Homo sapiens: one gene and its partner. The protein of the gene in region 2 interacts with the protein of the main gene of each other region in a pairwise test. Each region holds a gene or a part of one and is shown on either strand. Other genes may lie near its edges.

Evidence for each region. The genes of interacting proteins can lie anywhere in the genome.
Region 1: the proteins of PLAGL2 (region 2) and RHOBTB3 interact in binary tests that used the Homo sapiens proteins (3 or more experiments, as listed by UniProt).

Annotation. Positions count from the first base shown.
Region 1 is NC_000005.10:95,726,766-95,734,335, forward strand, and holds the start of RHOBTB3 (rho-related BTB domain-containing protein 3), read left to right. Parts: upstream 1-4,570; 5' UTR 4,571-4,917; coding exon 4,918-4,919; intron 4,920-4,927; exon of another isoform or gene 4,928-5,093; coding exon 5,094-5,319; exon of another isoform or gene 5,320-5,337; intron 5,338-7,570. UniProt on the Homo sapiens protein: Rab9-regulated ATPase required for endosome to Golgi transport. Involved in transport vesicle docking at the Golgi complex, possibly by participating in release M6PRBP1/TIP47 from vesicles to permit their efficient docking and fusion at the Golgi.
Region 2 is NC_000020.11:32,204,732-32,211,767, reverse strand, and holds the start of PLAGL2 (zinc finger protein PLAGL2), read left to right. Parts: upstream 1-4,024; 5' UTR 4,025-4,127; intron 4,128-5,204; exon of another isoform or gene 5,205-5,472; intron 5,473-6,564; exon of another isoform or gene 6,565-6,674; intron 6,675-6,685; exon of another isoform or gene 6,686-7,036. Other genes in the region: POFUT1 (GDP-fucose protein O-fucosyltransferase 1 isoform 1 precursor), read right to left, coding at 1,576-1,697, 3,703-3,826. UniProt on the Homo sapiens protein: Shows weak transcriptional activatory activity.

The sequences.
Region 1 (7,570 bases), on a different chromosome or scaffold from region 2:
TCCTTAGAAACAGAAACTGCAACATGTGGCAATATATTGAAAGTGAACAAAGGAGGCAGCCCTCCCGCTGCCCCTCACTGTGTATCCTATTGCTGCCATGCCCCCAACACTCCTTGTATCTGCCCACTTACTGGTCAACCTGGGGTACCAGCATCAATCCCAACATTAACTAGTAGTAAAGCTTAATTTCGTTTCCCCCCTTTTTTTTTTCAGTAAAAAATAATGTGTGTGATTAGAAGTTTATTCTGGAATTTCAGGGATCATCTTCTGTACCCCACCTTGAAGACTCTGGCTCTAGATAAGTAGTCTTAAAAATTGCGTTTGTTTTTAACCTTAGAAAACCCATCTTTTTAATGAAAATGAATATGAAACTTTAATATTTTTTTAAAAGACAGCAATAAGACTGCTCTGATTGGCTTTAAGATGCCTTTGTCAGAGTTCAGATCTCACTGCTTACTCTTTTTCTGCCACCTCCTCAAGCTGATTTGAAGATTCTTCTATGCAAACCTAGTTTTCCTTAAAACATAGTTGGAAAAAATCTTCTGCCAAGCCGAGATCTCTAGGCCTGCCCTCACCAATGCTTACTTCCTCTCCAGCTGTTAAGGAACCAACACGTTTTTCAAAAACTGGTATATGAATATTCACAATTTGGGGACTAGTAATAGCCCACTGAATTACTTTACATGTCCTTACTGTACTTTATGCTACATCTTATTTAGGGATAAAAACATCTAATAGAGTAAATATGAAATGGTGGCATTTCAGCCACTAAAATAGGAAAAAAATATTGTTTGGGTTGGAAGCCCTTCCTGTGTGTTCCCCAGTGACCTTGAGGTTGGAGGACATGTGATATCTGTTCTGTTAACACTGGTAAAATAAAATTTTTTAAATGTGCTGATGAGAGAAACTGCAAATACATAAACCAAATAAAAATTTAAAATACAAGGGAAATAACTTTAAAAAAGTGGTCATAAGAAAATTATGAAAAGATCTTTAGGATATCAGGAAATGGACCATCTGTGATATTCTTTTAGCCAAGATAAATAACACTAACTGCTGTAATAATTGACCTCAAAATGTCTGGCTCAACTCACTGAATATCTATTTATCACTCAAATCACAGTACAATGCATTCTGTGAGGAGGCTCTGCTGTAACTAGTCATTCAAGGACTGGTTCCACACTGCAGTGCTAATAGCTTCAAACACCTGGCTTCAAGGTTGACCTGACTTCATGTGGTTGAGACAGGAAGATAAAAGAGAATGGAGAGACACACTTCTCTACTGCTCAGCAGGGATCATATTCCGTTGATGAGAACTAATCATGTGGCCCTACCTATATGCACAAAAGTTGAGAAACGTCATTTAGCTATCTTGGAAGAGAAAACAGGTTTGGTGAGTATGTAGCCAGGCTTTGTACCAGATACTCAATTTGTAGCTTAAGTATCACCAGGTATGACTCCAGAAATCTCTTGGGAAGCCTCCACCACTCTTTTTTCTGCCTGCTTTAATATAGAAACCTTCATGCCAGCACTAACTTCATCTCTTGCTGTTCCTAAGACAAGCCATGATCTTCCATTTCTTTATACCTTTGCATGTGATGTCTGTCCAGTTCTTTGAAATACTCCTTCCCTTCTAACCTCCTCTTCTTCCAAATCTAACAAATTCTTAATCTATTAAGACCTAAGACAATGTTTACTTTCTTTATGAACTTCTGACACAGAAAGCACAGATCTCTTCCTAACATTCACTGAACTTATCTTTTACTTTGTACCTATCTCTTTTACTGACTGCCTTTGTACCTATCTCTTTTACTGACTGCCTAGGCCTAGGTCTAGGAACTAGAATGTTTTCAAAAGGATTGAGTGTGCTAATATTCACAAACTAATTAATATGTCAGAGGGGTCTGAACCAGAATGACTCCATCTTGAGTAGAGGCTGGGTACACTAAGGCTGAAACCTACTGGGCTGCATTCCTAGGAGGTTAGGCATTCTTAGCCACAGGATGAGATAGGAGGTCAGCACAGGATACAGGTCACAAAGACCTTGCTGATAAAACAGAATGCCGTAAAGAAGCCGGCCAAAACCCACCAAAACCAAGATGGTGGTGACAGTGACCTCTGGTCAACCTCACTGCTCATTATATGCTAATTATAATGCACTAGCATGCTAAAAGACACTCCACCAGCACAATGAGTCTACAAATGTCACGGCAATGTCAGGAAGTTACCCTATATGGTCTAAAAAGCAGAGGAACTCTCAGTTCTGGGAAATGCCCACCCTTTCCAGAAAAACTCATGAATAATCCACCCCTTGTTTAGCATATAATCAAGAAATAACTATAAGTATACTCAGTCGAGCAGCCCATGACACTGCTCTGCCTATGGAGTAGCCATTATTTTATTCCTTTACTTTCTTAATAAACTGGCTTTCACTTTATGGACTTGCCCTGAATTCTTCGCTGGAGGTCCAAGAACTCTCTTTTGGAGTCAGGATTGGGACCCCTTTCTGGTAACAAATTGCTTTAGCTTCTTAAGGTCAATGACCAAGTCTTATGTACCTTGGGATCTCCTATGCCTACCCAGCACAGGCTTGGCTCACCTATTGAGTAACTAAGGAAAAAATGAATACTTTCTCCCTTTCTGACACTTCCAAGTTGTCAGCAACTTTGGTGTCTATTTTTGTTTCATTTTTGTATTAATATTTTTATATTGTCATAAAATATAACAATAGTTACCATGTTAATCATGTTCTAGTGTTCAGTACACGCTCTAGTGTTTAGTTAACAATGTTCTAGCGTTCAGTTCTATAGTTCAGTATAGTACGAACTATATATGCACCTCATGCAACAGATCTCTGTAACTTTTTCTTCCTGCAAACCTGAAACACTATACCTGTTGAACAACGCCCCCTTTTCCCCTCTCCCCAGCCCCTGGTAACCATGATTCTACTTTCTGTTTCTAAGAGTTTGACTACTTTAGATACTTCATATAAATGGAATCACTTTTTGTGATTTGCAACTGGCTGATTCCACTTAGCACAAGGTCCTCAAGGTTCATCCATGTTGTAGTTTATGAAGGAATTTTCTTCTTTTTTAAACGCTAATCATCCATTACATGTGTATACCACATTTTCTTTATCCATTCATCCATTCTAGTGTCTTTGTTTTTGACTTATGGGTTTCCGGAAAAGACTGATGAGAAAATATATTTTCTATTAACCCAAGAGAAAAAGTGATCTTGCATGCTGGAATTTTTAAGGATGGTTTAGGTTCTAGAGACTCAAAGAGAAATCGTAGAAAATGCAAAGGGAAATTAGATTAAAAAAAAAAACAGTGACCACATAAAGAATATCTCCCATTATATCCTCTCTGAGCACGAGAAACTATTAAACTACTTTCAACCGAGCAATAAGGGCCCATAATAAAAAGCTGTTGCCCTAGTTTTTTTACTGCCCTACTCAATACCCCCTCTTTCATACCCTCAAAATAGCTCAGCTGAGAAAAGAAACAGTCCAATTTTACAGAAGGGAAAAATAAACAGATAAAAGGATAAGCAAGAACTCTTTTCAACACAGAGTAAGGTACTGGTTAGAATTTTAATACTGTATGGAGGAGTCTAACCCCAGAGTAATCCCTGGCCCATTTTGGTGTTAGTAAGTGGATCCCAGTGTTCGTTTGTATCGAGGTAGTTTGAAGCACGTTAGGGATATTCATAGCCTTTACTTCAGTGCATTATTATGAAAGAATCTAAAGTATCTTTGCATTTACGTGATTATGTTTTCAGTTGGTCTGCGGAGCTATTATTAAATATGTGGCCATAACGTGTACAGAAAAATCTCCAAGTAAACTGGCATTTAACTTACCAACACGTTAAACCCCCATACATAACTTCCTTTAAAAACGATCACACTAAAAATCCCAGCATTTAAAATCCTGAAGTTTTCGGTAAAATACGCTAAATATAGCTTGAAATAGTAAATAATCCCCCCAAGGCGACATTAGCAAATTAATTGGTGTGTGAACAAAGAACTCTTTCTGCAGCAGCATGAATGTTGCCTTTATTTTTTCTCACAAGTATGATTTTAGAAAACAGCTGTAGCGCATGTTGACAAATGAGAAAGCGGCAGACGTGGTAAAGCACTTTCGGTCAAGGCCAAGAGGGGGGGAAATCGGGTTGCTGGGGCGGCACTCGGGCTGGAATCCCTAGCTTCCCTAACCTCCTTTTTCCAGTCCGGAGTGAGCGGGGGCCCCATCGCCCCACCCCCCTTTCCTGGCTCTGGTTACGGCCTTGCGAGTTGAACAAACTTGCTGCAGGCGGATTGGCGGCTGGGAGCTCTCGGGCTGGGGCGTTGTATTTATTAATTTATATTCCGCGGCGCCCCGCGCGGGCGGCTCCTTTGTGTCCAGCCGCCGCCACCGGAGCTCCCGGGGCCTCCGCGGGGAGCGCGTCCCCCGCATCCGCCCGACCCCCGGGGCTGGCACGTGCTGCGCCCGGTCCGCTGAGGGGGCGGAGGCCCCGATCTCCCCGACCCCCCTTCTCTGCTTAGAGGAGGAGGAGCAGCGGCAGCGGCAGCAGGAGGCGACAGCTGCCAGCCGAGGAGGCGCGGCGGAGAGGGGACTGCGGTCAGCTGCGTCCACTTGGGGCTGTGCGGCGGTCCCGCGCCCGGCGATGTTCCCGGGCACTCCCTGAGTAGCGGCAGCTTATCCCCCGCCCGCTAGCCCGCCCTGGTCCCCGGCTCGCTCGCTGGCTGGCGCGGCCCCGGCCCCGCTCTGCGTCGGCCCCGCCGCGGTGGAGGCGCGCGAGGGGGACGCGGCCGGGGATGAGCGGATTGCGGGTGAACTCGCCGCCCGGGGGCCCCGCGAAGCCGTGAGCCGCTGCTTTTCTCCGAGTCGCCGCCCTGCCCTTGGATTTGAGATCATGTACGTACGCGCCGCCGTCCTGCCATTGTCTCTCTCCAGCGCGTGCCGTGCGCCCCAGGGACAGGGGCTGGTGCCCATCCTCGCCGCGCGCTGTCCCCCGCACTTCCTGTTCCGAGGAGAGACCCGCGCGCTGACCGTGCTTCCCTTCTCCCCTCGCCCCCTCTGTCCGTGCAGGTCCATCCACATCGTGGCGCTGGGGAACGAGGGGGACACATTCCACCAGGACAACCGGCCGTCGGGGCTTATCCGCACTTACCTGGGGAGAAGCCCTCTGGTCTCCGGGGACGAGAGCAGCTTGTTGCTGAACGCGGCCAGCACGGTCGCGCGTCCGGTGTTCACCGAGTATCAGGCCAGTGCGTTTGGGAATGTCAAGCTGGTGGTCCACGACTGTCCCGTCTGGGTAAGGAAGAGCAGCTGCTCCGCGCTGAGGCTGAAGAAGCTTTTCTTTCCTTTTTTTTCCCCCTCCCCCTTCTGCCCACTTCCGTGAGTGTGGAGTGTCCGCGTTACATGGGTCAAATTTTTAAACATTTTTGAGAAAATCTTTGGTCCTTTGTTTCACTGGGCAGGGAACAGCCCTGTCAGAGAACACTCTTAGGAAGATAGAAGGCCCCAGTGGGAATGTGGAGCACTTACTGGTACACTTCACGACTGTGGGTTGACCCTTGGTAGGCAGCAGACAGTTGAATGTGCCAACTCCAAGGGACGGGGTCACTAAGTTTCATCAGCAAAAAGCAGTGTTTTTTTATGTCTACCCTATGGGTGATAGTGTAATATTGGTGTTCTAAAAATACATCCCTCTCAAAGCTCAACACAGGCAAAAATACTTTTCACTGGGACAGTTCAGAAATAGTTCCTCTGGAAAGCGGAGGAAAAGACAGGGACTGGGAGTTAATTTTAAATGACTCATTTATAGCACTATTAATTGATCTCTGAAAACTTAATTTTAATAATGCAAATACTCTTTATGTGTTAGCCATTTGTCTTAGTGACTCATAAATCAGAAATAACATTACTAATGTTGTTTGGAAAACTTTTAAAAAATTAAAATTTGTAATAATTGAACAAAATAGTAGTGAAGTGGATAAATTATAGTCCGATTCTTGAGTGTTTGATTAAGGGAGAAAGGAACTTACTTTCTGACACATATAAATATTTTCAGCATACAATAACATTATGTTTGAATGTTTTCCTTTAGTCTTATTTGAAAATCTTTGATTCTTTACTGATATTGGAGTTACGTATGTTTCAGCTAAATGTTACATTTAATAACAGAAGAAAGTTTAGTGCCTGAAAAGATACAAATTATCGTTGTGTAAGATTTCACATTTAAACAGCAATATTAAAAAAACTGAATTAGGACTATAGGAAAGTATCACGCCATTCTAAAAAATGTGTAGAATATACTTGGAAAAATTTCTTATGCAAAGTTCCACATAACAGAACGAAAAGATCACTCGCTCGTGTAAGTTTTCAGTTAAAGAAGAAAGTTATGTTAATTTGGTAAAATAAAAAACAGGCCTTTTCAATTAAGAGATACTATTAAACCCCTAGTTATGATAGTGATGATGCTGTTCATAAGAAGTATTGATGGAGAACTTACTGGTCAGAGTCTATGCAGGCAAATGAAACACTTCTTTTACTTGGGATCTTTCGTTGTGAAAGATCTTACAGCCTAAAAACATGACGGTTCAACATGCAGTTGAATAAATGTTTAGCGAATCGAGTAAATGTAGGGAAAATAAAACTAGCTACATTAGGATGTTAGGATTGCTTTCCCGTATTTAATTTGAGCTGTTAACACTTTCCTGTTTATACTGTTAATTTTGCAAACAGTAATGCTTGTGATCCCATACACTTTGTCTAGTAAAATGAAATCTTCCAAATGGAGAAAATAAACCTCTATAGTACGGATTTTTGCCATATGCTGGTTGTTATGGTTTATCTTGCTAATAACTTTTTGTTTGGTTAGACTCTGGCCCTATTTAAGGCACCAAGTTTGTAACCAGGTACAATTTTCTAGGTTATAATGATCTTCAGATATGAGATTCCATTTCTAGAGTTGCTCTTTATAAGGTGCTTTTCTTCACTTGGTGGTAAGTAAAGCCCATCAGAGATTCTAAAGCTGATTGCATTAATCAACTGTTATTTGACGTATGTACGGAACCAGAATATTAAATATAGCAGAGCAGATAGAGCATAGCCTTTGATATCAAAAGGATCTGATTTCAGATTCCCACATTGCCATTTCAGGTCTGTGTGTCCTTGTTAAATCACTTACCTTCTCTCAGCCTTATTTTCCCTATCTATAAAATAATATGCCTCCTAAAGCTGTGCTGAGAAGTGAATGAGAAACTAGCACGTGTCAAGTTCTAAGTATAGAGGCTGGCATTTAGTAGATGCTCTATAAGTGGTAGCTAATATAAAAATAAAGTGTTACAACTTTAGTTATGTATCACTTATATTAATACTAAGCAAAAGTAAGATTTTCACAGGTCATTCAAGATTTATACAACTACAGTACCAGTACACTGGGGCAGCGATGTTCATACTTCATACATGCAGCCCCACAATCAAGTAAAATAAAATAGTTTCACTGTAGAAATTCAGATTTTTTTTTTTAAAAGATGAGTTCAATTCTCCAAATGTGGCTC
Region 2 (7,036 bases):
CAATTTGGAGGTCACTGGTGACCTCAGTGAGAATGCTAACAGTGGCGAAGAAGAGCCTTGTTGGAGCAGGTTAGTAAGCCACAGAAAGCAAGGAAGTGGGGACTTGGAAAGACAACTGGCTGAGAAGGCAAGGAGACAGAGGCAAGCAAGCCAGAGGGAGATGGATGGGCAATGTCTACACTGTAATAGTGAGTGCGAGGCCAGGCGCAGTGGCTTATGCCTATAATCCCAGCACTTTGGGAGGCCAAGGCAGGCACATCATGAGGTCAAGAGATTGACACCATCCTGGCCAACATGGTGAAACCCTGTCTCTACTAAAAATACAAAAATTAGCTGGGCGTGGTGGTGCGCCTGTAGTCCCAGTTAATCAGGAGGCTGAGGCAGGAGAATCGCTTGAACCCGGGAGGCAGAAGTTGCAGTGAGCTGAGATCGTGCCACTGCACTCCAGCCTGGCAAGAGAGCAAGACTCCATCTCAAAAAAAAAAAAATAGTGAGTGCGAAATTATCAGAACATCAATGGTTTCCATTAACTGAGGACTCTAGGATCTGTACGTTGATAAGCTCAGTTGATTCTAAGAGGGAGGCGGCATATGACAACACTGAAGGCGTGTTACTGCCACTGACACATTCAGTCCTTACCACAAGAGGGTAACAAGAATCATTACCAGCTTATTTTTAAAATGAGGACACTGAGGCACAAAGAGGTAAAGTACCCTGTCCAGGCCATGCAACTAGTAAGAACCCAAGTCAGACTATGATCTCTGGTACTCTGGCTTTTGACTGCTGCTCAAAACCTCTGTAAATACTGGCATGCAAAGGAAAAAGTAAAATCTATGCAGAGAAAAGGTTGTAAGAATGAAATTAAGTGTTTTGTTCACACTAAGTATTATTTCTGATGTCTATTGGAAAATTATTAAGTCAATTCATCAAATACTAATTAAGTTCCTACTGCCAGGCTCCGGGAGATACAATATGAACAACGACACAAGGTCACTGGAAGACACAAAGAATAAGCAAGGAACTGGGGGCCGGTGAGCATCGCATGACAAGGGAGCCCCTTGATGGGGTGAGAGGCAGCACTGAAGCCAGACTACCTGGGTTGTGGCCTTGGACATGTCATTAAATAACCTGTGCCTGCATGTCTCCTTTAAAATTGATAATAGCATCTGCCACCCTTGGCCAATGGAATGCACAGAGGGTAGGACCAATCAGGGAAGGAAATGGAGGCTTTAGGTTCAAGTCACAGGCTCTGGAGTCAGACAAAGATAGCTTTGAATTCCAGCTCTCCTACTCACAGGCTGTGTGATCTTGGGCAAGTTACCTAACCTCTGTAAACCCCGGTTTCCTCACAGGCAAGTGATGAGGGTGAAATGAGCTAATTCTCATGCAGCCGCACACAACAGGTGCTGGATAAATAAATGTTAGGCATTGTTATTGCAGTGAAGACAGTTCTGGCTGGAGGTAGGGAAATCTCAGAGGAGTGGGAGGTAAAGCCCAGAGGACTTGAGGGTTAAGTGTAAGTAAGCAAGACTGAGAAAGGGCGGAGAAAGGCCAAGGTCAGTGGGAAGTACTCACGTTGGTGAAAGGAGGCTTGTGATGCTGGTACTCAATCCAAGGAGGGACAGCCAAGGTACGGTTTAGCAGCTTTGCAAATGCCAGAGAGCCCAAGAAGTGATCGGCCTGGTTCCCAAAGCGCCCTGGAAATGGTACATTGCGGGTGAGGTGAGGCCTGGGGCATGGAGGGCATAGAGCATGCAGGGCTCAGAAAGGTTGTGGAGCCAGGGGTAGAAAGTCAGGGATACCAAGGAGAACTAGGGGAGCTGGCAGCATAAGAACAAGTCTGGACTCTTGGGTCTGATATCCAAGGCTCTTCAGGTCCTGCAACAACTGCTTCCGCCACTCCAGGTTTCTTGCTGTTTCCCCAACATGCTCTACAATTCCCATCCCCACCCAATGCCTCTGATCTTGCTGTCCCTCAGCCAGAAGAGCTTCTACCTCTATCTCCATTCACCTGCACATGGACGGGCAACTCGAATGCCTCATTCACTGGGCTCCTTTCACCAATCCCCTGCCATACTCACTCTCCCTCCTTTACCTCCCACCTTGGCTCTGAGCTACTTCAGTTCTTCAATTTTCCTCAAGTATCTTTGCTCACTTCCTGGCCTTCGTACTGGCTGATTCCTCAGCCTGTGAATGCCTCAGAAGCAAGGACCCTGTGTGATTCCTTTTCTTAATCCCAGCATGGCACCTGTTCATTCATTTCACAAATATGATTGAGAGGCCACAATGTGCCAGACTCTGTGCTAGGTGCTGGGATACAGGAATGAACAAGAAGGACAAGGCCTCTGCCCCTAAGGCACTCACAGTTCACTGCAGAGACACTAAACATGTAAACAAATACATGAAAAATGTTGATAATTGCCAGAAAGAGATGAAAAAAGTTTGGTGATAGGGTAATGAGGAGATTACTTGGGTAGAGGTCAGTGAAATCCTTTCTGGTGACATTTAGGCTGAGATCTAAAGGATGGGAAACAGCTGGTCAGGCAGAAATGGAGGAGAGGATTCCAGGCATAGGGACCGCCACCTGCAGCAGTGCAGACTGGAAGACCTGAGCATGTGTGAGGAACGCAAAGGAGTTAAGTGTGGCTGCAGCTGGAGGATCAGCAGAGAAGGGAGTTGTGGAGATGGCCAGTGGAGGCCACATCATTCAGGGCCCTGAAAGTCATGGTCAGGAGTCTGGAAGCCACTGGGGGCCTTAAGATCATCCACTTCCACAATGATGATCCACCATACCCATTTCAACTGTGCACCTGGCATGGTCTTTAGATTCTCCCCTACCCTGCTCTCTTTATTTTCCCTTAGTATTCATCATCCTCTATGAAACTATGTATTTATTGTTTTATGTTTACCCCTTTTTGGGTTTGCTTGTTTCGAGACAGGGTCTCACTCTGTCACCCAGGCTGGCAGTGCGGTGGCACGATCAGAGCTCACTGCAGCCTCGAATTCCTCGGCTCAAGAGATCCTCCCACCTCAGCCTCCCAAGTAGCCGCCCAGATAACTCCCAAGGGACTACAAGCACACGATACCACGCTCTGCTTTTTTTTTTTTTTTTTTTTTTTGAGATTGGATTTTCACTATGTTGCCTAGGCTGATCTCGAGCTCCTGGCTTCAAGTGATCCTGCCTCGGTCTCTCAAAGTGGTGGGATTACAGAAGTGAGCCACCGCGCCTGGCCTACTTATTCTCAATTGTTTGTCTTCCCCAACTAAAATGAAGGCTCTACAAGGACACGGAGTTTATCTTATTCACTGCGGTATTCCCAGTACAGAGAACAGGGCCCGGCACAGAATAGGTGCCCCATAAATATTTGCTGAATCAATGAAAAATCACCAGGAGCCAGCGTGGGTCAGTGACATCAAGTCCTGCCCCACTAACTCCATTTACTGGACCCTGGACTGGCTTAGACCTCAAGCAAGTCACGTAACCTCTCCCAGCCTCAGTTTTCTCATCTGTCAAATGGAAAGTTGGACACGTTGGCCCCTCTGTGCCCTTGCAACTAAGGCAGAGAGGAGAAGAGCATGCCCCGTCCCGCTCTGAGGTTCTCTCCTGGACCTGTGAAGGTGTCTCTGGGCGCATCTGAGGAGTGGCTTTTCCTCTCCCGGCCTCAGTTTCTCCATCTGAGCAGAGGGCTTGGGAGGCCTTACCCATGCAGGGGCAGTAGAGCAGGTAACCGGCCGGGTCCCAGGAGCCCGCAGGCATCCCCGGGAGCGGCAGAAGCAGCAGCAGGAAAGACACGCTCAGCGGCCGTGCCCACGCGGCGGCGCCCATGTCGGCCCGGGAACCCGAGCCAGCCGCGGCGCACAGTCGGGGAGGGAAGGAGGGACGCGAGCGCCCGCCCCGCTCCCAGCGGTCCCTGCGCGCCGCCCGCGCACCGCCCCGGCCGCTCTAGCCCGCGGGCGGGCGGGACCATAGAGATCCCGCGGCACCGCCCCCTCCACGACCCGAGCGCCCGCTCGCGCGGCTCCCACAATGCACCGCACAATGGCCCGACCGCCGCCACTACCGGGGCCTGAGGGGGCCTGGCGGAGCCCGAGCGCGGCCCGGCCCGCAGCGTGGGGCCCCGAGCGCGGTGAGTGCCGGCGAGGGCCCCAGGGGACGGCGGGGAGAGGGGCGGGAGGCCGTCTCGCTGCGTCCGCGCGCCCTGTACCCGGAGCGGCGGCGCGCCTCATCTCGGGCCCCTCAGCGCGGTCGCCCACACCCCCGACCCGGGGCCCGGTCTGCGCCAACCCGGCCCCAGATAGGCCCTGGGGTGACGAAAACTCTCCCTGGACCCCATACCTGTGTCTGGGGGACCCGAGGAAGCCACCGGTCCCCTCCCTTCCGAGACCTGGAGACGCAGTCCTGAGGGTCCCCCATTCCCGACCCCTAGGCTCCCTGGAGACCCAGATAAGGCGCTGCTGACCTTACCAGGGACCCGGGTCTGGGGGACGCAGATAAGCTGCACCTGCTCCCTCCCTCCGACACGCCTACCCAGACCCACATAACCCCCTTTCCTGCTCCAGATAGCCCGCTCTGTACCCTGTTTCATTTTCCAGACTTACATAACTCCCTTTGAGGCTTCCCTCAAATATCTGGGTCTGGAGAAGTCGAATAAGCCCCACCTGTAGTTCCCTCCTCAGTGGCCATACTCCCAGGCTTTCGACATCTTCCATCCCGTTACCCATTTTGAGACCCTCTTGAAATTCAGAGGATACACTTCTGACTATCCCCATCCCCCCAGCCTTCCAGCCCTTATAATCCCCCATTTCATTCTTGTGGGGATCCCTTAGAGACCCAGGAAAGTTGCTCATGATTCCTTCCCATCCTCGCTCTTCCTTCCCATCCCAGAGACTCCCTCCAGACTTCTCCCTGGATTTCCTTTGCTTCTCCAGCCCTCATCCACTCCCATCTCTCCCAGGCTCGGGGAATTGAACCTTTCCCACACCACAGTGGGGTGATCTAAAAGTTGGCCTGGGACCAGGCTGTGGCCCACCTTGGTGGGGAGAAAGGGGCCTGTTAGGTGGAGGATATGGGGACACCTGTGTGGGGGAATCGGTGCTTTCACCTGCAAGCTTAGCCTGTCTCCTGGCTTGTGTGTTTTTCCACCTGTCAGCCATGGGACTGTGTGTAGAGTCTGGTCTTGGGTTTCTAACCTTTCTCTCCTAAGGTGAGGCCACCAGATTGGGAGCGGGGGTGTCGAATCACGTTTTCTCCCCATGAAAATGGGGTTGTGATGAGTTGCAGCCATTTGTTCAAGGCCTCCCCAGGAGTGGGAGGCAGCAGGAATCTGAGGAAATAGTGAATCAAAGAGACTCCAAAGAGGGCCCATCTACACTGACAGAAGAATTAGCAGCCTGAGAGTAAATCCAACCCCTGTTAATCCTGTTTGATGTTTCTTGGAATGGTGCAAGTCATTGAGACTCTCCAGCCTCCCTGTAATTTAATTCTCCCACCACTCTGGAGTGGGCGGGGGGGAAGGGGGCGACAGCATTCCCATTTCCCCTCTTCTCACTGTTTTCCAGCCAACCAGTGTGTTTTAGGATTTGTTTCTGGTTCTGAGATCAGGATCTGTTTTTTGTTTTGTTTTGTTTTGTTTTTTCTTTCCTCTAAGTCTATTTATAATTTCCCAGTTGCTATTTTGGGTTCTGCTTAAGGGAAGATTCTATCCCAAGGAACGTTCTGGGTCTATTTCCTCCGGCAGGTGTTGAATTGAGTTCTTCAGATCCCCAAGTAACTCTTGGGCAGGAGGATAAAAGCTATTTTAGGGTAGTCACTGAAGTGGAGCTGTTAATCCTCTGTGGGTCTCTTTAGTTAAGAACACTCAAAGATTAACCCTTTCCTTGTGCAGGGGTGTTATCTCTCAACTGTTTTTTAGGGGGGAGTGAGGAGAATTTGAGTGTGGCAGCAGAAGGTGGAAACATGCAACTCAATACAAAGACAAAGATAATAGCTCTCTTTTGTTGGGTACTTCTAGCAGGCCAAGCTCTGTGCTGAGCCCTTTGCATACCTCACTAAAATAATCCTTACAGCAAGCCTGTGAGGTAAGTATTTTTAGCTTTACAGATGAGGAAACAGGCTAATAATGGAGAAAGAACGCAGTTTCTATAGAGATGATGTAACACCATAAAAACTATAGTTTCATCAGAGAGCAGCAGGCATCATGGCCCATAACAGGGGACGGACAGACTGGGGAGAAATATGTCTCAGTTTCAGCTTTCAAAGAGGACCATACAGAGTTTTTAGCAAGCATTCCTGTTTGGGATATGGAGCCCTAATAATACAAGAGAGTATAGGAAAGTGGCTCTCTGCTTAAGAGAGAACTCTGGCCCAGGAGATGGTGCCTGGAGGGAGGTAAAGTAAGGGGCTCTTTAAAGGGGATGTGCCGAGGGTTAGTTGTGAGGGAAAAGGGGAAGACTGCATTCTGGGGGAGATGTTGGGAAAGGAAGGAAACTCACTCTGAGGCCTGAGAAGTAACATTAAAGAGGAAAAAAAGAAGTACTATTCAGGCCTCATGCGGAAAAAGAGGCAGACACAGCCGAGACCTCAGAGAAGGCACTGCATGTATTCAGAGCACACATTTTGTATCAGCCACTTTCAAGAGTATTATTTCATTTAATCCTCTATACGAATCTTACAGGTAAGGAAAATAAATCCGTATTTTAGAAATTGAGGAAACTGAGGTTCAGAGAAATAAAGTAACCTGCCTATGGTTTCCCAGCCAGTAAGTGGCAGCTCTTCTGATAGCAAGTCCAAGGTTCTTTCCCCTTTCAGATCAGGCACTAGAAAGAATCTTAGGCTGAAAATATACTGAGTTGTGCCAGTAACTGGGAAGGATTGTGTTTGTTTTATGGAAACAGGTTCTGTCAGCTTCTCTATAGTCTATAGTTGTTAAGATTAAAATGTGAGACCAGAAGAGCAGCTTTGAAAGAGAAGTAGAATTCTTTCACAGTTTTGCTGAGGAAGGACAAGTCTGAAGGAACAGGCCTTCTGCTTATGTAA